Homo sapiens: one gene and its partners. The protein of the gene in region 4 purifies or fractionates together with the protein of the main gene of each other region. This does not show direct contact. Each region holds a gene or a part of one and is shown on either strand. Other genes may lie near its edges. The genes, in order: SGSH, TESC, HMGCS1 and INSL4.

The links.
Region 1: the proteins of INSL4 (region 4) and SGSH purify together in Homo sapiens (affinity purification with mass spectrometry; one large-scale study listed by BioGRID and IntAct). This does not show direct contact.
Region 2: the proteins of INSL4 (region 4) and TESC purify together in Homo sapiens (affinity purification with mass spectrometry; one large-scale study listed by BioGRID and IntAct). This does not show direct contact.
Region 3: the proteins of INSL4 (region 4) and HMGCS1 purify together in Homo sapiens (affinity purification with mass spectrometry; one large-scale study listed by BioGRID and IntAct). This does not show direct contact.

The regions. Positions count from the first base shown.
Region 1 is NC_000017.11:80,210,334-80,213,833, reverse strand, and holds part of SGSH (N-sulphoglucosamine sulphohydrolase isoform 1 precursor), read left to right. Parts: coding exon 1-30; intron 31-1,559; coding exon 1,560-1,763; exon of another isoform or gene 1,764-1,910; coding exon of another isoform or gene 1,911-1,965; intron 1,966-2,646; coding exon of another isoform or gene 2,647-2,786; exon of another isoform or gene 2,787-2,822; coding exon 2,823-3,382; 3' UTR 3,383-3,500. UniProt on the Homo sapiens protein: Catalyzes a step in lysosomal heparan sulfate degradation.
Region 2 is NC_000012.12:117,088,520-117,094,330, forward strand, and holds part of TESC (calcineurin B homologous protein 3), read right to left. Parts: intron 5,170-5,811; exon of another isoform or gene 5,155-5,169; coding exon of another isoform or gene 5,133-5,154; intron 1-5,132. UniProt on the Homo sapiens protein: Functions as an integral cofactor in cell pH regulation by controlling plasma membrane-type Na(+)/H(+) exchange activity. Promotes the maturation, transport, cell surface stability and exchange activity of SLC9A1/NHE1 at the plasma membrane.
Region 3 is NC_000005.10:43,291,813-43,297,623, forward strand, and holds part of HMGCS1 (hydroxymethylglutaryl-CoA synthase, cytoplasmic), read right to left. Parts: intron 5,355-5,811; coding exon 5,190-5,354; intron 4,106-5,189; coding exon 3,940-4,105; intron 3,050-3,939; coding exon 2,879-3,049; intron 2,351-2,878; coding exon 2,244-2,350; intron 1,162-2,243; coding exon 1,036-1,161; intron 826-1,035; coding exon 662-825; intron 1-661. UniProt on the Homo sapiens protein: Catalyzes the condensation of acetyl-CoA with acetoacetyl-CoA to form HMG-CoA, which is converted by HMG-CoA reductase (HMGCR) into mevalonate, a precursor for cholesterol synthesis.
Region 4 is NC_000009.12:5,228,943-5,235,250, forward strand, and holds the start of INSL4 (early placenta insulin-like peptide precursor), read left to right. Parts: upstream 1-2,476; 5' UTR 2,477-2,581; coding exon 2,582-2,777; intron 2,778-4,711; coding exon 4,712-4,935; 3' UTR 4,936-6,308. UniProt on the Homo sapiens protein: May play an important role in trophoblast development and in the regulation of bone formation.

The DNA of each region.
Region 1 (3,500 bases), on a different chromosome or scaffold from region 4:
AGTACACCACCGTCGGCCGCATGGACCAAGGTGGGCTTGCAGAACCGGGCACTGGAGGGGGTGCCACGGCCGGGGTCCCCCATCCTGGGCCAGCGCCCTCTTAGGTCACGGCATAATGTGGGTGAGGGTCCCAGTGTGGCAGGCCCTGTGCTGCAGCTGGCAGAGCCCACATTGAGAGGAGGGGCCTGTGGGTGGCATCAGGACCCAACCCCGGGGCTGCCCTGATGTGGACCTGCTCCTGGGCTGGGGCCTTCGGGTGCCCCAGAGGTTGCGTGAAGACTTCAGATATTTCCAGTCACAGGACCTGGGTCAGATTTGGGGGTTTGGAGTTCCTTAGCATATGCAGATGGAGATCTTGAGGTCTGTGAGTTTTTTGTGGTTGATGGCTTACAGCAACCAAAATTTGTACTCCCACAGTTCAGGAGGCCAGAAGTTTGAAATCAAGGTGTCAGCAGGGCCATGCTCCCCTGAAGGCCTAGGGGAGACCCTGCCTTTCCTCTTCCAACTTCTGGGGGCTGTGCCAGTGCTGGGCGTTCCTGGGCTGGCGGCAGAATCGCCCCCATCCCCGCTGAAGCCTTCACATGGCCTTTTTTCCTGTGTCTCCTCTTTGTGTCTCCACTTCTTCTTTTTTTTTTTTTTTGAGACTGAGTCTTGCTCTGTCACCCACGCGGGAGTGCAGTGGCGCAATCTCGGCTCACTACAACCACCACCTCCCAGGTTCGAGCGATTTTTCTGTCTCAGCCTCCAAAGTAGCTAGGACTGCAATCGCACCGCACGCCACCATGCCCAGCTAATTTTTATATTTTTAGTAGAGACGGGGTTTCACCACATTGGCCAGGCTGGTCTTGAACTCCTGACCTCGTGATCCGCCCACCTCAGCCTCCCAAAGTGCTGGGATTACAGGTGTGAGGCACCGCGCCCGGCCTGTTTCCGCTTCTTATAAGGACCCCGTCGGGTTTAGGGCCTACCTGAGCACTTCAGGATGATTTTGTCCCAAGATCTTTATTCGTGAAGTTCCCCTTTCCAAACAAGAACCCCTTCACAGATTCCAGCACACATGTCTTTTGGGGTCAGGGACGACAGGAGGTCAGGACCTTTGCCATTTCCCTATTGGTGCCATTAATTCTTAGTGAGCTGGGAAGGAGCGGGTATAGAGGAAGCCTTGTCCTCTGGCCCCAGCTGGGAAGGAGCGAGTATAGAGGAAGCCTCGTCCTCTGGCCCCTGCCCTATTTGCTCCATGGGACAGACACGAGATTCCGGAGAACTCAAAAGCCGGCGGGCACCAGGGAGCAGCTGCCTGGGGGTGACACAGAAGTGCCAAGGGATGGCTGGAGTCCCTGGAGGCCCATTCGAGGCCTGCTCAGGGAATGGGAGCTGGGCGGAGCTGGGCAAGAGCTGGGCAAGAGCCAGGGCCATTGGGAAGAACTACAGGGTGCTTTCGAATCCGGAAAGCGCTGGAGCCCAGCGGCCGGATGCAGCAGCAGGTGGGTCTACACACACCACCCGCTGCCTCCCTCCGTGTCTGCGGCTGAGCTCTGCTTCTCGGCCCCTCACCACAGGAGTTGGACTGGTGCTCCAGGAGCTGCGTGACGCCGGTGTCCTGAACGACACACTGGTGATCTTCACGTCCGACAACGGGATCCCCTTCCCCAGCGGCAGGACCAACCTGTACTGGCCGGGCACTGCTGAACCCTTACTGGTGTCATCCCCGGAGCACCCAAAACGCTGGGGCCAAGTCAGCGAGGCCTACGTGAGCCTCCTAGGTATGCCTTTGTCTGTCTCCGTCAGGAAAGGTGTGGGAGTGGATCTGGGACGGGGCCATGACCTGTCAGATGCTGCTCCACACCCATTACCTAATGTGGCTCTCATATCATCTGGGTGAGGAAGGGACTGTCACTCCCACTCTACAGAGGAAAAGAATGAGGCTCAGAGAGGTGAAGTAAGCTGCTCAGGATTGCACAGCTGGTAAGCACTAAGCTAGGATTCTCGCCTGGATCCTGCTGCTTTCAAAACCATTGCCTTTTCCCCGCCTACCTCCGATGAGCTTCAGAATCACCTGGGATGCTTGTTAATATCCAAATTGCAAATCCCAGGGTGTCCGATTCAGTAGATCTTGGCGGGCTCAAGAATTTGCATGTCTGACAAGTTCCCAGGTGATGCCGATACTGTGGGCCTGGGGACCCCTCTCTGAGCATCCGTGCACCCCATCCTGCCTTCCTGGGGGACCCAAAGCACCTCATGACCCTGCTCATTCCTAAAAAGACCTAGGACATCTAGTCCCATGTTATGGATGTGCAGACAAAGACACGGGTGCAGGAAGACTTTGTGAGGGGCTCGGGGTGACCCCTTCGGCACAGGGCAGAGGCTCGTGTGTCCTGCCCACTGCCTGGCAGAGCCTCCAGGTGGGGTGGGCCCGGGACAGCAGGAAACTCAGGTTCCCTTTCCCTCCGAGCTCGCGGCCCACATCTCTCTTGGGGCCCACATCTCTCTCTGGCCCCAAATGATGAGCCAGGAGCACTGTGGCCACACCCACCACAGGGGCTGGAGTACACGAGCTACCAAAAAGGAGACTTCTTTTCCAGTCCATGGGATTTTAGAAGGATCCTAAATGTCACCGAATCAGGGCCTCTTGTTATACCATTCAAGGCACTGAGGCCCAGAGAGATGACGTGGCGGTGAGAGGTGTCGGCTCGACAAGGCACCTCCCGCTGCTGATTGGATTGGAGAAGGGAGCCGCCCAGAGTGGCGTAGGTTCGGCCCTTCCGAGGGCAGCTCCTGTGTGCTGAGGGCTCTGCTGCTCTGAGATGCCGCGTCCCTTCCAGACCTCACGCCCACCATCTTGGATTGGTTCTCGATCCCGTACCCCAGCTACGCCATCTTTGGCTCGAAGACCATCCACCTCACTGGCCGGTCCCTCCTGCCGGCGCTGGAGGCCGAGCCCCTCTGGGCCACCGTCTTTGGCAGCCAGAGCCACCACGAGGTCACCATGTCCTACCCCATGCGCTCCGTGCAGCACCGGCACTTCCGCCTCGTGCACAACCTCAACTTCAAGATGCCCTTTCCCATCGACCAGGACTTCTACGTCTCACCCACCTTCCAGGACCTCCTGAACCGCACCACAGCTGGTCAGCCCACGGGCTGGTACAAGGACCTCCGTCATTACTACTACCGGGCGCGCTGGGAGCTCTACGACCGGAGCCGGGACCCCCACGAGACCCAGAACCTGGCCACCGACCCGCGCTTTGCTCAGCTTCTGGAGATGCTTCGGGACCAGCTGGCCAAGTGGCAGTGGGAGACCCACGACCCCTGGGTGTGCGCCCCCGACGGCGTCCTGGAGGAGAAGCTCTCTCCCCAGTGCCAGCCCCTCCACAATGAGCTGTGACCATCCCAGGAGGCCTGTGCACACATCCCAGGCATGTCCCAGACACATCCCACACGTGTCCGTGTGGCCGGCCAGCCTGGGGAGTAGTGGCAACAGCCCTTCCGTCCACACTCCCATC
Region 2 (5,811 bases), on a different chromosome or scaffold from region 4:
AAAATACAAAAATTAGCTGGGCGTGGCGGCGCATGCCTGTAATCCCAGCTACTCAGGAGGCTGAGGCACAAGAATCACTTGAACCTGGGAGGCGGAGGTGGCAGTGAGCCGAGATTGTGCCACTGCACCCCAGCCTGGGCGACAGAGTGAGACTCTGTCTCAAAAAAAAAAAAAAAATGTACAAGGCTTACTTCAGTAGGACACTTAGATCAGGAATTTCAGGTCCTGCTACTTGGATATAATACAGATTCTACCTTCCATTACAAACACTGGATAAAACAAGAAACAAATGTAATGTCCAGCTAAATGGAAGGAAAGGGCAATACCCAAGTGCCAGGGGCAAGGAAGAGACCAGGAACCAGCAGGGTTAGTGACAGATGCTGCTGAGGTGGCCCAGGTGTTAGAATGGTTTCAGGCTCCAACAGCTAAGGGTGGGGACTTCAAGTCCACTGAGTGACAGAAGAGGCCTTGGGTCTGCATGAACTGGAGCTGAGACCCCTCTAAAAAGCTGAAATACAAAAGGCTGCCTCTGCACATCAGGTGGGTCAGAAAAAACGTTCCCCACTGGCCCAGAGAATAATAAGACAGCCATCTCTGCTAGGGAGACGGCAGGGGAAAGAGCAGGCTTCTGCAATGAATCCAAACTCCAAGACTGAGCCACACACTGGTGAAAAATCCAAGTCTCTGTGGGGCAGGAGACCCAAACCAAGGAGTTAATGTGAAAAGTGTTTTCAGACTGGTGAAAAGCTTGAGACACCTAGCACAAGAAATGCAAATGCACTGTGTAAGGCTCTTCTAAAACCCAGGGCACACAGGAATCCTGTGGGGTGGTAGGGGGAAGGGCCAAGGGGAGTTGGGAAAAAGCCCAAAGATGAGCTTATAATCAAAAAACCAAACCATACAAGCAAATGAACCACCATAAGGGAGAACAGCAGACACAATTAACAAAAGGAATAGCACTCCAAGAAGGCAAAACAGAAGAGACTATATAGTAGGCTTTAAATTATTACAAACAATGGAAGAACCATACCCTATGAAAAAGAGGTGAATTTGAAAACTATATAGCACTTATAAACTTTTTTTATAAGTCATTGCAATTTTTTGAAATTTAATAGGTTAAGGCAGCAAGGTTGTAATAGCTGAAGAGAGAATTAGTGAACTGGAAGATGGATCTAAGGAAATGACCCAGCTGAAATAAAAAGAAAATATGAAAGAAAGATTAAGAGGCATGCAGACAGAATGAGATGAACCAACATTTGTCTAATAGGAATTACTAATGAAGAAGATAAAGAGAAAGGGGAGAGATAATATTTTCATAATGGAAGATATGATCTTTCTTTAGAATCAAACAACATAAACCATTCCCAGGATAAATAAAAATAAATCCACACCCAGACATAGCATGTACAAAACACCAATGACAAAAATTTTAAAACAGGGAAAAGGGAAAATAGGTTTCTACAAAGAAATGTCGATTAGACTAACAGCTGATTTCTCAACAGCAACAAGACCAAAAACGAATCGCTGAAAAAAAAAAAATCCAGCAACCTTATATTTTACACACAGCCAAATGTTCATTCATGCATGCCTGCAAAATAACAATATTTCCAAAGTTTACAACTCACAGAGCCTCACTGAAAAATCTACAGAAACATGCATTAAATAAGAAAACTATATCCATAAGGAAGAGTGGTTGCAAGAATTAATAGTGTCTGCATAGAATAATAATGAATATGTAGGTTCTTAAGTACTATGGAGTGATACAAATTAAAGTACATTAAGGTCCCCAATTATGAGCACAAGGGCAGAGATGGTGATTAAGTTTAGGCATGTCCAAGATAGCAGACATATAAAAAATGAAATGAATTACTAAAAAAAGTTATAGCATGCCTTTTAAAAGGAGATACATAGCCAGCTCCTGAAGTGTTCCCAGTTGAAATGATTAGTAACTGCCAGTAACTCTCAAGCACTGAGGATGGGTCAAGAGCTTTGCCCAAATTCTAACTTAATCCTCGCAACATTCAGTGAAACAGGTTCTATTTTTGCTGTCATTTTACAGATGAAGAAACTGAGGCTCAGGGAGGCAAAGTGCTTTGCCTAGACAGTAAGAGGCAATACCATGATATAAACCCACATCTATCTGCTGGAAAAGGACAGGTGGTGAGAAGCCACCTGTGTGCCATAGTGGGACTCTGGCTGAGGTCCTTGGGGGGATGCAGGCAAGGGCAAGAACCCCCTTAGAACTACCAGGTGGGTGAGGCCTGCAAAGTGCTGGGTATTTGCTCAGGGTTCTCTGATCATTGGGATTCTGGCACAGGTGCTCAGGAGGAGCTTAGGGAACCCTCTTCCAACCTCAGCACCTGGGGCAAGCTGGCCTCTGCAGCCCACCTTTGGCCTCTACAGCCCCCCTTTGAGGACTGCTGTCTCCGGCCTGGCCACCTGCCCTCCTCCTGGAGGCACCTGGGCCCTGAGACCTCCACTAACCTGCCAGGGAGCAGTGCCAAGAACGGAAGGCTTGCTCCTGACAGAGTGCCGGTCTGCAAAGGTCACACTGCTGGGACGACAAAGAGCCTTTTTGTCCTAGTGCTCCGTGGCCACCACCACCAGCGGAAATCACCCACTCGACCTTCTGGTTTTATAAATTAATAATTAAGCTGGAGCAGGCAACAGGAAGGCTGGCAGGACCAGGGGTGCCCAGGCCCTCACCCTGTACAGTCACACCAGCATGGACAAAAGAACAAAAGAGGCCCTGAGTTTTCTTCCCAGAACTGTGAGCCCTTCTGAGCTGAAAACACCTCATTCCCTCAGCTCGAGATAACAGATCCTAAAGTGCTTTGCAAAGGGAAGAGCATCTTATCAACACCCAGGTTATTCTGTTTGTCTTACTGGGCCGTATGGCATGTCTGAGAGTTGATTAAATTTCCACGATACATTCTGGAGACCATTAACTCACAAAAAAATATCCTGCCAGGATGGCAGTAGGGGAGGCAAGAAAGAAAGATGCAGCGGGGATCTAATTACCACCAATCTGCGGAGCGAGGACGTCTTGGAGAGGACTGCCAGTGGCTTGCACAGAGAAAACACAAATTCTTTTGAAACAGACCTGAGCCACCCAGTGAGACCCTAGGAAACAGAGGGGGCGGCACCCTCCTGCCTCTTCCTCCCAGCCGTGGTCCCCACTCCCCTCCCACTGCCCACTACTGAGCTTGTTCTCCCTGGGGGCAACCCACCTAGATTCCAGAACTTTCCACATCACCCAGAACCAATCCTATCTGCCTCAAGGTTCAGTTCTCCCCTTGCCGACTTGGTAAACAATGTGTGGAACTCTACTGACGAGGTTGTGGGGTAACAGCATGGCCTCCCCCAGATCACACAGATGTGCCGACTCTCAGAGTCTCAGTCCAGAGCATGTGGGGTTCTCGGCATGCGGGAGAGGCGGTTTCTCCCGGCACTGCACTTGGCAAATCCCACTAGAAGGCCTGGTTTTGAGTCTGGATTCCCTACCCAGCAACTAAGTGATCTTGGGCAGTCATTTCCTCTGTCCAAACCTCAGTTTGCCCATCTATAAACTGGCAGCAATAGTCCCACCCTCAAAGGGCTTTTCGGCAGATCAGATGATTGACAAGTGCTCAAGAAAGAGCAGCTGTCACCTCATTCACAGCTGGCTGCGTTTTTTAAGGAGCGGAACTGGTGGCTCAAAGAAGGACACAGCCTGGATGAGACATCTGAGCGAAGTGGCACAGGACGGCTCCAGCACCGAGCTCAGTGCACATGGAACGCCATCCTCCAGGGTCCCGCTCTGTGGCTGCGACAGATGGTGAGATGATGGGGCCCAGGTGAACAGAATGAAAAATACCAGCATGGGCTAGAGCAGGCAGGTGCCTTTGGTTGATCCCCAGCCCTGTGGGAAGCTTCCACAGCGGGCATTCTCCTGCAAGTTTCCCCTGTGAGCCCCCAGAGAGGAGGGCAGGGGAGGCCTGGAAGCCCCCATCCAGTCAAGGCAGAAAGGGTTCCAGAGGCTGGGGGGGTCCCATGATCTGGACCACTTTGTGGATGACTCCAGGCCAGGGTCTCCCCCCGCCCCAGAGCTCAGCATACAGGACTGGTCCTTCCCCCTGGTTTCACGGACACATTCATTCCTCCTCTGCTGAGGAGCCACTGTCTGAGGAGGGAGCCTGAGGTGGGAGGATCACTTGAGCCTTGGAGTTAGAGGCTGCAGTGAACTGTGATTGCACCACTATGCTCCAGCCTGGGCAACAGAGCAGGGCCATCTCAAAAACAAATTAATTTTAAACAATCAATAAAAGTAATTGTTTGAATCATTTTCTTACTGAGGCATGATTTCCATACAATGGAAAACACTTCACTGTTCAGAGACCCTAACAAGGGCAGAGGGCCCTCCCCAGAGGCACTCAGACAATTCCACATCCTATTTCATGGGGTTCATGGACTCCCTGAAGATGCCAGGGGAAAAGCCACAACCTAGCCCAGAGGAAGAGAAAAGGCACGGGGGACTGGCTGGTTGGCTGTTCAGCTTACCAAGCTTTGGCGGACGACAGAACAGTGTGGAGCTGGCTGGTCCACCCTGGCCCATCAGACCCTTCCTCCCGCTATGCTACAGTTGTTGGGGTGCTCCCCTGTCCCCCTGGAACCCCTGAGCTTCTGGAGGGCAGGGACCGCATCTGGTCCACCCTGGTAGCAGAATATGGCAATTGGTGAATGAGCCGAGGCCACCGTCTGAGGCCACTTAAAGACTTTAGAACCAAGAAGTATTACCCAGGGGCGAGAACGCAGTGGAGAAACCAGCGCCACCCCCACCAGCCACGCTTGGCTACGCCAGTCCTCCCTGCCATCTCTAGCTCCTTCTCCAAATGAGATTAGACCAGGAATGGAATCCGACTCTCTTTTTTTCTTTGGAGACAGTCTCGCACTGTCACCCAAGCTGGAGTGCAGTGGCACCAACTCCTGGGCTCAGGCGAACCCCCTGCCTTGGCCTCCCAAAGTGCTGGGATTACAAGCATGAGCCACCGCACCAGCCTGCGACTCTACTTCTCATTATGATGCCTGTGGCCTTGGGCAGGCACCTCCTCTCTTGAGCCTCAATGTCTGCATCTGTAAAATGGGAAACCAACCGTGTTCCTGGGAGGATTCCATCAGCTACTGCGGATACGCTGCCTGGCTCAGCTGAACGTGTGGCAGATGCCACGCGCCCGAGAAACATTAGCTCTTACCATCATGAGGTCTGAACTCTAGGTCTGGAGATTTTTTTTTTTTTTTTCCTTTTCCTTCTGGCAGCTTCTTGGCATCAACATAGACATGCCTGAAGAGCTGTTTTGGAGCCTGAAGGAAAAAACAGACCCTCCACCTTTCCCAGAATCCTCTGTCTTATTATTTCCTTTCCAACTCCAGGAGCAGACACGGATGGGGGGGACAGGAAGTGGGGCCAGCTCAAGGTGGTGAAGGACAACTGACTCAGGTGAATAATTCCCAAGAAGCCCTTCTCTCCGTCAGGTCCCACTTTGTACCTCGGTCCACACACCAGACACCACTTGGCTGCTGTCACCACGGGTGCGTGGGGAAGGTGAGCTCAATCACACCCCCGGGACGCCTTCGCTCGGGCTTTTCATATGAATCTTAACAATCTAGATGTGAGCCTTCTTGGCTCAGAAAAGATTCCTGGGAATACTCGTTTCCGGTTTAAATCAATCAATGAGACTCTAACAGGCAGGGAGAAGGAAGGTGGGCACGCAGACCTGATGATGCCCTGTGTGGCAAGCTGCTGCTCAGGCATATTTTTGGTGGGGCTGGGGA
Region 3 (5,811 bases), on a different chromosome or scaffold from region 4:
TTCTTGACAATTTGAGGACAGATTTTGACCATGATCTGGGATGAGATGTGAAAGGATCCTTGTCCCTCTACTCCATCTCTCACAAAGACACACACCACAAATGAACCTTCTCTCTATATCAGTCTTCCTTTAAATCCTGGTATCATTAATAAAACCTAGTATTTACTGTATATTCTTTTTTTTTTTTTTTTTTTTTTTTGAGATGGAATCTTGCTCTGTCGCCAGGCTGGAGTGCAGTGGTGTGATCTCAGCTTACTGCAACCTCTGACTCCCTGGTTCAAGCCATTCTCCTGACTCAGCCTCCTGAGTAGCTGGAATTACAGGCACGTGCCACCAAGCCCAACTAATTTTTGTATTTTTAGTAGAGACAGGGTTTCACCATGTTGGACAGGATGGTCTTGATCTCCTGACCTCGTGATCTGCCTGCCTCAGTCTCCCAAAGTGCTGGGATTACAGGCGTGAGCCACCGCACCCGGCCTTTACTGTATATTCTTAAAATATTAATAATTCAAATGCAAAGCACTTTATACAATTGGAAATAGTACAGCTAGAATCTACTCCCAGAGCCCTTACTCTTCTTTACTGACATTTATTTATGTTGCTAAATCCCAGTTAGGTCTCCTAAACCCTAAGATATGGAGATGGGAACTCTTTTATTTACCTCAGTTGCTATGTTTGAATGCACAAGTCCTACTCCTTCATCCAAAGTGTCATCATTTGGAGTGGGACGCCGAGCGTAAGTTCTTCTGTGCTTTTCATCCACCCTAACTAAGTACCACGTTCCTTCAAAGAGTGAATCTATTGAACCCTGGGGAATATAGTTGACTAAAGGAAAGGGAGAGAATATCTACAATTAGTTATGATATACAATTCATCTGGTAATAAAGCTAAAGATAAGTTTCATATATCCCAATAATTTTCACTGACATCAGATTAGTACTGAGTAAAGTCTTGATATCCTTATCGTATATGTAGCATCCTTAATGATATCAGCCCTCCAAATGGGTTAACTTAAAGAACATTTAATATTTTTACCCAAATGATGGGTGTCCTCTCTGAGCTTCATGTTTTCAGCGAAGACATCTGGTGCCACACCAGTTCTTGAATCAAGCCTTGATTTAAGATCACATAAACTTGCTGTTATTTTATCAAGAGCAGACCCTAAAATAGTGAATAATTCAACATTAAAAGATTTTTTTGAAAAATCATGTCCAAAAGAAGCCTAAGTAAAATGTTGCCAAATGAGGCAAAACAACTTTTCATTTTCATTAAAACTACTGGCTACTGATTAGTTAAAAGATAAGATGATACCTATTTGACAAATCTCCTATGATGTCAGACTAGAAATCTATTATTGAGTATCTGCCACTAGACAAGTTAGGAAACAGGCATAATTTGAAACTATAAATAACTTGTCTACAATTAATCCATGGTACAATTATTTTATTTTTATTATTTTTTATAGAGATGGGGTCTCACTATGTTGCTCAGGTTGGCCTTGAACATCTGGCCTCAAGCAATCCTCCCACCTCAGCCTCCTGAAGTGTTGGGATTATAGGTGTGAGCCATTGCACCTGGCCCATGGTATAATTTTAAAAAGTAATGTCAAGTTTTCATCAGTTTATCTCTACATTTTTGCTCTTTCCTGCTCAGGGAAAGCACAAAAGTGACCTTAAATATAGCCAAGACCATAAGCCTATAAAAATTAGATAACTTAGTCCTATCCTTTATCCAGATAAGGTAGAATTTTTTTTTTTTTTTTGGATAGATTTTTAGGGCAGAGAGTAAAAACCTACTGAAAGAAGTAATGAAGACTAAAATATTGTAATGATCTGTGGGACAGATTCAGGTGCTCACTTGAGAAGACTGCTAAATCAACTTCCCCAGAGTAGTTCTCAATACATTTTTTTTTTTTTTTTTTGACAGAGTCTCGCTCTGTCACCCAGGCTGGAGCACAGTGGTGTGATCTTGGCTCACCACAACCTCCCTCTCCTGGATTCAAGTGATTCTCCTACTTCAGCCTCCCAAGTAGCTAGGACTACAGGCATGCACCACCTCACCTGGCTAATTTTTGTATTTTTAGTAGAGATGGGGTTTCAGCCATGTTAGCCAGACTGGTCTCGAACTCCTGACCTCAGGTGATCTGCCCGCCTCGGCCTCCCAAACTGCTGGGATTACGGGTGTGAGCCACTGTGCCTGGACTCAGTTCTCAATACATTCTTGTTGAAAGATTCAGCACTTACCCGGTGTAGCATCTTGTGTGACTTTAAGAGAGTACAGAGTGGCAGCCAAACCAGAACCATAAGAAAACACTCCAATTCTCTTCCCTGCTAATTGCTGAGGTGAGTACCTATGTAGGGTGTAACAATAGTTCAGAAGTTTAACTGATCCAAAGCTACAGCGTGTGGGAAGCTATAAAAGTAGCAATAAAAATTTAGGCTATAAGTAAAAGTAGAATCTAACTTAAAGTTTTAAGGATCTAACTCAAAGTGTTAATATTGCAGTAGGGAATATAACTTAGTTTTAATATTGCAGCATGTGAGTTTTCATCTTGTGGGGAATGACAGAGCTTGTGAAAGTCATGCCACAAAACAAGTTACTTCATCAACCAGGTATTTATGGTTCAACTGTAGGTCAAGAATTAAAAAACCATGAAAACAGAAGCCAGGAAAGCCAGTATGAAATTAACAAATACTTCTGGAAGAACTGTAGCCTCAACCCATACATCTTTCAAGTCAATGGACAATAGCAGATTAGAGAGCCTCAAGATAAAATTTTCTGTGATCTACCACCAACATGCTTGACACTAGATTTGGTCTTAGAAATCTAACATCTCCCAAATAAGGGGAGTTAAGTAGTAGGTGAAATTTATACTTACTGTGCTAGAACAGATGCAAGGGAACCATATACTGAAGATGTGTACATATTTCCATTTTGATTTGATACAAGTAAAGATGCCTTTGTTTTCTGACTGAAGAGTTCAGAGCTAGCCTTCATAAATGCCTTCTCCACATCTCTATCAAAGTAGGTGTCTTCTAATTTAACATCCCTGAAAGATTTATTTTACAGTTTTACAGTGTTTAAAGCCTATGTTTTTATTACACTAAACAGCAGGCCTAATTAGGATTCAAATCTTTAAGTGTATATAATTGTTTTCTCATTTATTAAAAGCCAAGTAGCAGCAATCTAATTGCTATAGAAATCATAACAGTTGTATATATATGGTTCTTTTTCTCAAAAGTTTTCATAATCAAGTTAAGCCTGCTTGATTTGAATAGGTTAAAAGACGCACTGTAGCTTTATATTTATATTCACTTATATTGGCTTCAATGAATAGAATATTCAATCAACTGAATATTCATCAACTGAATAGAATACTATTTCAAGTCCATAATAATGTTTATTTAGTTAGAAAAGTCATGGTATTACAGGAGCCAAGTTTTAAAAGTCAAGTATAATTTTATCAGATAGAGAAAGGACACACAAGAGACACAGGGAGAAACAGAACGAGTTGAACACACATAGCATGCTAGGGAGCCTAAAGTGAGAAAAAGACAGGTGGAGTACAAAAGCTGACTTTAGCTGTGGCAGTGTGCAGGATGGAAAAGGGCATGGGGGCAGGGGTGCTGAGAGAGGTAAGGAGTTAAGAGGCTGCTGTAGTGAATATAGGCCCTTGTGCAGTTACTTTATCGTGACAACATGAATGGAGCTGAAAGAAATAAATCAGAAAATCTGAATAGAAATGTCTAAAGAATTTGTGCATGTTAACTACCACCTCTCTGGACTTAGATTCTTCACTGACTGAGACACACAGATTAGACTGGATGACTTCTAAGATTCTTCTGACTCTCAATTTCTCAGGTCTGTACAAATAACAGCTTAACAGATATTAAAAATGCTCTAATATAGAAGGAAAAAACTCATAATAGCTCCTCTTACCCAAAGGCTTCCAGGCCACTATAGATACTATTTTTATCTCTATTCTGGTCATTAAGGAAGTCATTCAGCAACATCCGAGCTAGAGATTTCTGAACCAGTTTACAATATGGTGAGTGAAAGATCATGAAGCCAAAATCATTCAAGGTAAAATCTTTATCATTTCCCTCTGAAAGAGAAGTCCAAGGAAACTATGAAATTCATATAAGCCATGAAATTTTAAAGTTTGACTTTAGAATAAAGCTAGGATATTTGTATATGTTTAAACAGCAACCACAAATACACTGTATAATGAAACCTCTCTATACCTTAAAGTATACATTTAAAAAGACACTCAAAGATGAAACAATATGTACTATGTCACTAATTTTCAAATTTAAGATTCATACACATTAGCAGGTTACATAATCAATTTAGTGGGTCAGGATTAGTATTTTTTTTAAATAAAAGAGTATTTTAAAAAACAAAATGCAGTAGAAAAATAGCAAACTGAATAACTTGCAGCAAGGGTAAGTAATGTCATGACATTTTTGTTTCAGTCTGGCATACACATACAATGTAACATGTACTTCTTACTGTGGGTCCTAATAAAAAAGTTAGAAAACCACTATTCTGTTAATATATACTGCAAGAATGCTTCTTATCCAGAGCGACTAAATTCACTGATATTTGTCATTGAATATGATTTTTAACCCCTTCTCATAACCTCTAAAAAGCAAAGTTGGACTACAGAAAAAGTATACTTTATGTAATAATGTGTTATGATAGCATTAACTCAAATACTGTCCTTTCAGTGCCTCAACAAATTTCCAGATTAATGATAACAGTAAAAAAACAAATACAAATTCACAGGTCAAGTGCAAAAAGATTATTTTTGGGGTAAGATCACTTTAGTAATTCATTTTCATTAGCTTTCCCTGAATCACAGCTGTAGTCCAAAACCTTGTTAAAATACCTCTCTCAAAAGATGAACAAAATTCAACTTACCTTCTTTTCTCCACTTTGATTTTCTTACAAGGGGTAAACCGACCTAAATATTTTTGCAGAGATACACCTCAGTTCCAAAGTTTACCTCTTCTAGTAAATTACACTTTCCCAGAAACTATGGGAAAATGTTGTTTGGTGAATGAGGAATTAATGGTAAAAGGATATTAAATGAAGAATGCCCACAAAGTAGTTGCCTACCAAAGATACCTAGTACATTAGACTGCTCTCAACTCATACCAAAACCAAGGAAAATGGGTAAAACTTACCTTTCTGCCACTGGGCATGGATCTTTTTGCAGTAGACAGAATAGCAGCGGTCTAATGCACTGAGGTAGCACTGTATGGAGAGTTTTCCATCTACTATAGGATATTCAGATAGCATATCAGGCTTGTAAAAATCATAGGCATGTTGCATATGTGTCCCACGAAGCCCTATTAGAACCAAAAAGGAAGATGTCTATATATTTCTGCTTCTTGATGTCTGTATGTTAATAAGTATACTGCATTATCTAAGGACCTTCCTTAACTATCTGATCAATTCTCACCACTTACAGTAGAGAAATCGCAAGCTGAAGCCAATATAAGTGAAATGATACATAACAGTATCCATGGACAGTCCTAAGACTCCTTTGGTATACAACTTTCCATGTCAGTTTCATAACTCTAACAGTTCACAGTTACTCTACTACACTGAAGACAAATTAAAATTGCCAGTGACTATCAGCAAGTTACTATTTATCATTTGAACCCTACATTAACCCACTTCTCTGTAAAGTGGGGATGACACCACCTACCTCATAAAACTGCTATGAAGATTAAATACAGGCCAGGCATGGTGGCTTACGCCTGTAATCCCAGCACTTTGGGAGGTTGAGGGGGGCGGATCACC
Region 4 (6,308 bases):
CCTTCCCAGCCTTTAATAACGTGACTGCTTAGCTAGGAGGGATAGATTTACCCCCAGTGGGGTTCCTCAATAATGGCACACATTGGACTAAGGTGCCAGATAACACTACAGATCACTCTACTATCCTCCCATTGTGTGTAAATTATAAATGTTCTAACCCTTAGTGTGCACCTACTGAAACACAATTATGGCTACATCATGGCAAAAGAAGTGCCTTAACAGTCTTAGCTGCAGGTAGCCTCAAAACGGAAATCAAGTCTGCTTTCCCAAACATTCCTTCCTGTGCTAAAGAACAAAGCCGGAAAAATAACGGATTCCACTTTAGCTGGGAGATCTGTCATGGGGAATAAGCTCATAGCCTCCAGTTAGGCAATTATAACATCCTAGACTGGAGCCCCTGTGGCCATTTGTAGGGCAGCCTTACTGATATCCTCATCCATCATGGCATCGATCACAGTTTCATAGCCTCGTCCCATTCCCTTATGATTTGGGCCGATGGGAGGATAGGATATCCCAGACCCCGAGTAAAGTTGATGCCTCCCCAAGACACTTTATGTTGCCTGGGACATCTTAGCACCTCCCTTGACACCTGGCATGGGACATATCATAATTACAGTAACAACTATACTATAACCTTTATTCATAATCACACTGATCAGTCCCTAATTTGCAACTCCATCCATATGTTTTCCTTATGGGAACTAATATTTCTATTACAACCCAAAATTCCATGTTTGTGACCCGGGTGCAAGGACAGGCTTTGTTTGCCTCATGTACCACTAATTACAATATATCTAATTTAAATACTACTAGTGTCATGGTATTAAGGAGACAATCTGAGGCATTCCTACCCGTCAATTTGACACACTATTGGCAAGGTTCCTCTTCCTTTGCCACCTTAGAATGTGCCCTATCCCAGGTCAGACCCAAAAGATTTATAGGCACACTTATAACCTTTATAGTCTCAGCCATAGTCATCCTAGCAACTGCTAGTGTGGCTATAGCATCTACTACCGAATCAGTGCAAACAGCTGCTTTTGTAGACAATTTGGCCAGAAATGTGTCTAATGAACTTCTCTTACAGCAGGGTATAGATCAAGAGATTCTTGCACGTCTGCAAGCCCTCGAGGCTGCCTTGGAATTTGTGGGGGAGCGACAAGATGCCCTAGCATTCTGATAGCAATTAAACTGTGACTGGGAGCATAAACATATCTGTGTCACATTTTTACCTTGGAATCAATCAATACATAGTTGGGATGAGGTGAAACAACACCTCTGGGGAAACTTTCATGACAATTTAACAGCAGACGTAAAGCAACTTAAAACTAAAATTTTAGAATCCCTTCACATGATAGATCTACATACTCAACAAACAGCCATATGGAAAGGTGTGCAAGATCATTTCTCCTGGTTATACCCCCGATCCTGGGGGTCACACTTTGACTGGAAAGGAATGTTACTAATTATACTCATGATTGTCTTACGTTATTTGCTAATTCTATGATGCAAAGCCGGAATAAAAGCAAAACCTAACAAACCTGTTGCTGCACACATCTGTACTCTTAAGTCAACAGAACCCGATGCAAAGAACAGAAAGGGGGGAGATGTGAGAGTTCAGTCAGGCTGGTGGGAAAATTTTTTCAGATAGTTATAAGAAAAAGACGCAAACCTTTTTGAAACGCCGGAGGGGTTTGTATAAGCTCCAGTAATAGATCAGGCTGAAGGCAGCCTAATCCTTACCTTGAGTTAATAGCTTAAGGCACAGATACAAATGAATGTAGTTTATCTAGTTTGTTTACTCATGTGGTCCTAAGACTAATCTTTGATCAACCGCGGGTGCATAATTGCTCTCTACTCGGGAGGTTGGCAATGTCAATTACCTTCTAGTGGTGTTTACTCAAGACCTTCGTCATTTAATCTATGCTGAATAAATGTGAGCTTTGCTGGCTGATCGGGGCCACGGCTGCAACTCTTTACAGCACCCTCCTTGGTGTCTGTAGGTGGCCCGGACCCTCAGCTGGACTGACAGGCAAACTATCTGTGTCAGTGTATGTTATTCATCCGTCGTTGGGTCAGGGTCTGTGGGACAGACCCCCGCAATTAAAAGCTTATATGCCAAATGTTAACTAAGATAATTTCTAGCCAATGAGCTTACAGGTCAGTTCTATTTTTATTTCATCTAAGCAAAGGACATTAAAAATTACCATTATTTTAGTAAGCATAAAAATAGTATTACAGGAGGAAAGTTAAGAAAAAGAAGTAGAACAACCAAATTCAAAACAAGCAAAGTGCAGCAGCACATTGGGAGCAAAGAGGGATATGAGAGTGTGGGTAGGGCAAGTAGGGAGACTAAATAAGAACTGAGGGAGAAAGTTCCTTGTAGGTGGGTGGGAAAGGGGTGGAACTGACACCATTGACGCAAAAGCTGAGTAATAGCCCTAAGCAAATAAATGCCTGATGAAGGCATGCAGAAAGCAGTCTGGAGCCCAGAAGGGACACACCAGCACAGTCTGGTAGGCTACAGCAGCAAGTCTCTAAAGAAAGGCTGAGAACACCCAGAACAGGAGAGTTCAGGTCCAGGATGGCCAGCCTGTTCCGGTCCTATCTGCCAGCAATCTGGCTGCTGCTGAGCCAACTCCTTAGAGAAAGCCTAGCAGCAGAGCTGAGGGGATGTGGTCCCCGATTTGGAAAACACTTGCTGTCATATTGCCCCATGCCTGAGAAGACATTCACCACCACCCCAGGAGGGTGGCTGCTGGAATCTGGACGTCCCAAAGGTGAGAGCCCTGGACTACCAAACAATCAGAATGAGGCCTGAAAAAACAGGCTCCAGATCTCATTGACTGCCTGTAGTCAACTCAGACTCTACTGTGGCTAGTGCCTACAAGTTTGTGGTTTTTCATTGTAATGTGCTTTTATTAAAAGGGTCTCACCAGAAATCTCATGGGAAGTTGGGGGTAGAGGAGAAGCTGCAGGAAAAACAGAAGAACAGCCTCACCTTGGAGGCTCTTGGTGCCTTTCCCACCTGGCAGCCAGAGATACAGGGTGGAGAAAACAGGGAATCCTCAGAGAAGGTGACTATTCTCAAACACCAGCAGGAGGTGAGGTGTACTCCCAGACCCCCAGGAAAGCTGGGCAGGCCAGAAAACAGGTGTGATTGCAATGAGATGCCTGGGCCAGGCATCTTCAATTAAGAAGAAAGGGGACAAACAGTGAGGTGATGAGCTGATTATCATTTCTGTTTATGCACCTATTGGCCTAGGGGCAGCACACTGAGACCTCTGTTAGGTTCCTGGAATGTGAGATAAAGGGGGCTTAGATTTAATAACTCTCATCCTTTGTCATTAAGCTGGGCAGTGGTCTATGTCACCAAAAACGTCCTCTTACAAAAAAGTTTTTTTTAATGCACACCAACAGAGCACCTTGCCTCCCATTTCTTTGAATCTACTCTTGTAGTGTGTTGAGAGAGATGAGATGAAGAGAAAGAAAGTGGCCTGGATGACTAGAGGGGAAATTGAAGGGGACCAGAGACAAGGGAATTTCACTGTTCAGACCATCATAGCTGATTTGATTAGTGTTTTCAACATTTGAGACTGCAAAGCATTTTCTTTAAAAGCAAGATTTCAGAATTGAGGAAAGTTCAATACCAGGATAGTTTTCAAACTTTACCAAGTAACAAGGTATTCATAAAGATAAATTGCCAGCTAAGTTAAAACTAGCAGGGGCAGTTTCGAAAAGAGATAGAGGCTACTATATTCTGTCTAATAGGTCGTATTAAGTTCTGAAAAGCTAAGTTAAATTACTAAACATTGTTTTACATTTAATACAAATGACACAGGTTTTGAACCAGCAATGTGTGACTCCAGAACTGCTTCTTGTAACCCATATGCATACACTTCATTAAATCATTAAATGACTCTGTTTAAAGTTATCGTGCACAGTGAATGCACTTGGATTTTGTGTGATTTATATAACGATTTCAAAGTTATTTCCTTTTTTTACATTATTAGTCAGAGCTTGTTTCATTTTACTATAAAATAAGGGAAGAATACCACAAAGTCCAAACAATTTCTAATGCAAACTAAGGAAGAGCATGCTGTACTATAATTTCTATTTAAATTTCACTTTTTTTCAGTAAATAAGTGAAAATCCTCATTTAAATACTTTGACAAATATAGATAAATTTAACAAGAAAAATGGAAAGTATTCATGGATAACAAATGTTAACATTTGGTGTCGACACATATAGATGTATGTTGCTTCTCAGCCTTTTAGCTAAGATCCACTGATATAGATGTATAGATTTATGTGGATCAGATTTGAATATCTGAATCTTTCTATTAGAATAACTTGTGATTATAAAAAAAATTCCCTATTGCTATCCAGTACATAATGCATTGAGGTTATCAATCAAAACAGTGTCAGGGAGAGTCAAAAGTGGTATGGTATAGGCATTTAGAGGGTCATTAGAAGAGTGCATAGAGGGGACAGGATGAGGAGTTAGCATATCCTTAATATTGTAGTATCTTAAAGTGCCCTACTCTAAGTAAGCTAAGTTGTTGAAATGTTAGGATACTTGCTGATTCTCTCTGGTGTTTAATTACATGGAGGCAATGGGTACATTGTGGTCTAGGCAAATTGTATAATTTTTCTGATCCTCTTTCACATGAATGTTTTTCCTCACCTTTCATTCCTCTCTTTTACTTCACAGAAATGGTGTCAACCTCCAACAACAAAGATGGACAAGCCTTAGGTACGACATCAGAATTCATTCCTAATTTGTCACCAGAGCTGAAGAAACCACTGTCTGAAGGGCAGCCATCATTGAAGAAAATAATACTTTCCCGCAAAAAGAGAAGTGGACGTCACAGATTTGATCCATTCTGTTGTGAAGTAATTTGTGACGATGGAACTTCAGTTAAATTATGTACATAGTAGAGTAATCATGGACTGGACATCTCATCCATTCTCATATGTATTCTCAATGACAAATTCACTGATGCCCAATTAAATGATTGCTGTTTATTAGAACATGAGAATCATTATTAGTATTCACATGTTTCACTTGCTCTGTACTAATATAGTCTCTCCAAATGGAGGAAGTTAGATAGATGGAATAAGTTCTAGTAGTTGATAGTACAATGGGGAAATTATACTTAACAATAATTCACTGTATATTCCAAAATAGCTAGAAGAGAATTGTAATGATTCCAACACAAAAAAGATGAATGTTAGTTTGGATGCATATCCCAATTACCCTGATTTGATCATTACACATTATATACACGTATCAAAATATCACATGTACTACAAAAATGTGTATAACTGTAATATGTGAACTACAAACTTACTGGAAATAAATTTTTAAAGTTTTACACACATAAACACATACGTTCACACACACTCACTCAAGTCTCTTCATTTTTCCTCTTTTCACACTAGAAGAAATGTAAGAGATAAAGGATCTAACCATCTCTAACATCAGCTCATAGTACGGAGGAAAAGCAGTGAAGGAATGAACTGGTGGGAGAGGTATTAGGCATGTTCACCCTAGGGTAAACCCAGAGACCTCCCTAGAACTTTGCCCAATGCATATCCTCCACCTGCCTCTCAGCACGCTGCCTTTAGACCTTCAATCATTCTATAAACTCCTCTTTTGTCCCTGGCATTACTCCACATCCCCTCATCAAAGTGGTGAATTGGCACAAATACTGGCATTCCTCTGGCTACACATACCTCCTCCCTATGTGTCTCTAAATCCTAAATCAAAGAGTACATTTTATACTCTGTCAGTGAGGTTCTACTAGTTGTGTTTGTTTGTTTGCAGGCTAACTGAAGCTGCTACTACCTCATTATCAGGTCCTATAAACTTAATTCAAGTGGCATGATTTGAGTAGCCCCCTGTGCCTGCCCATAAAGTGCTCTGAATCTAGTGTGGGACATGGAGAAGCAAAGGATAATAAGTGCAATGATACTTGTAGGTCATCATAGAGACTGTAATGATCCACAGGAATCAGGGTCGTGTTTAATGCCAACATGTGAAAGAATAAATATACAGGGAACAGTGTAGGTAAGAGGAGAGAGCAAAATTTCCCTAAGGAAACTGATGGCTGATCTGCATCTTGAAAGACATCTAAGCAGAAGAGAGTGCAAAAAGGGACAAGTAGAAGCCCAGGAAAATGCACAAAGGCCTGGAAGCATAGCATGTGTGGAAACAGCCAGAGTCAGCAGGGCAGGAGGTGGTGTGGAGAAAAGGAATTGTCAAGATCTGGTTGGAATGGAGACAGGAGAGAGGATCTCAAACGATT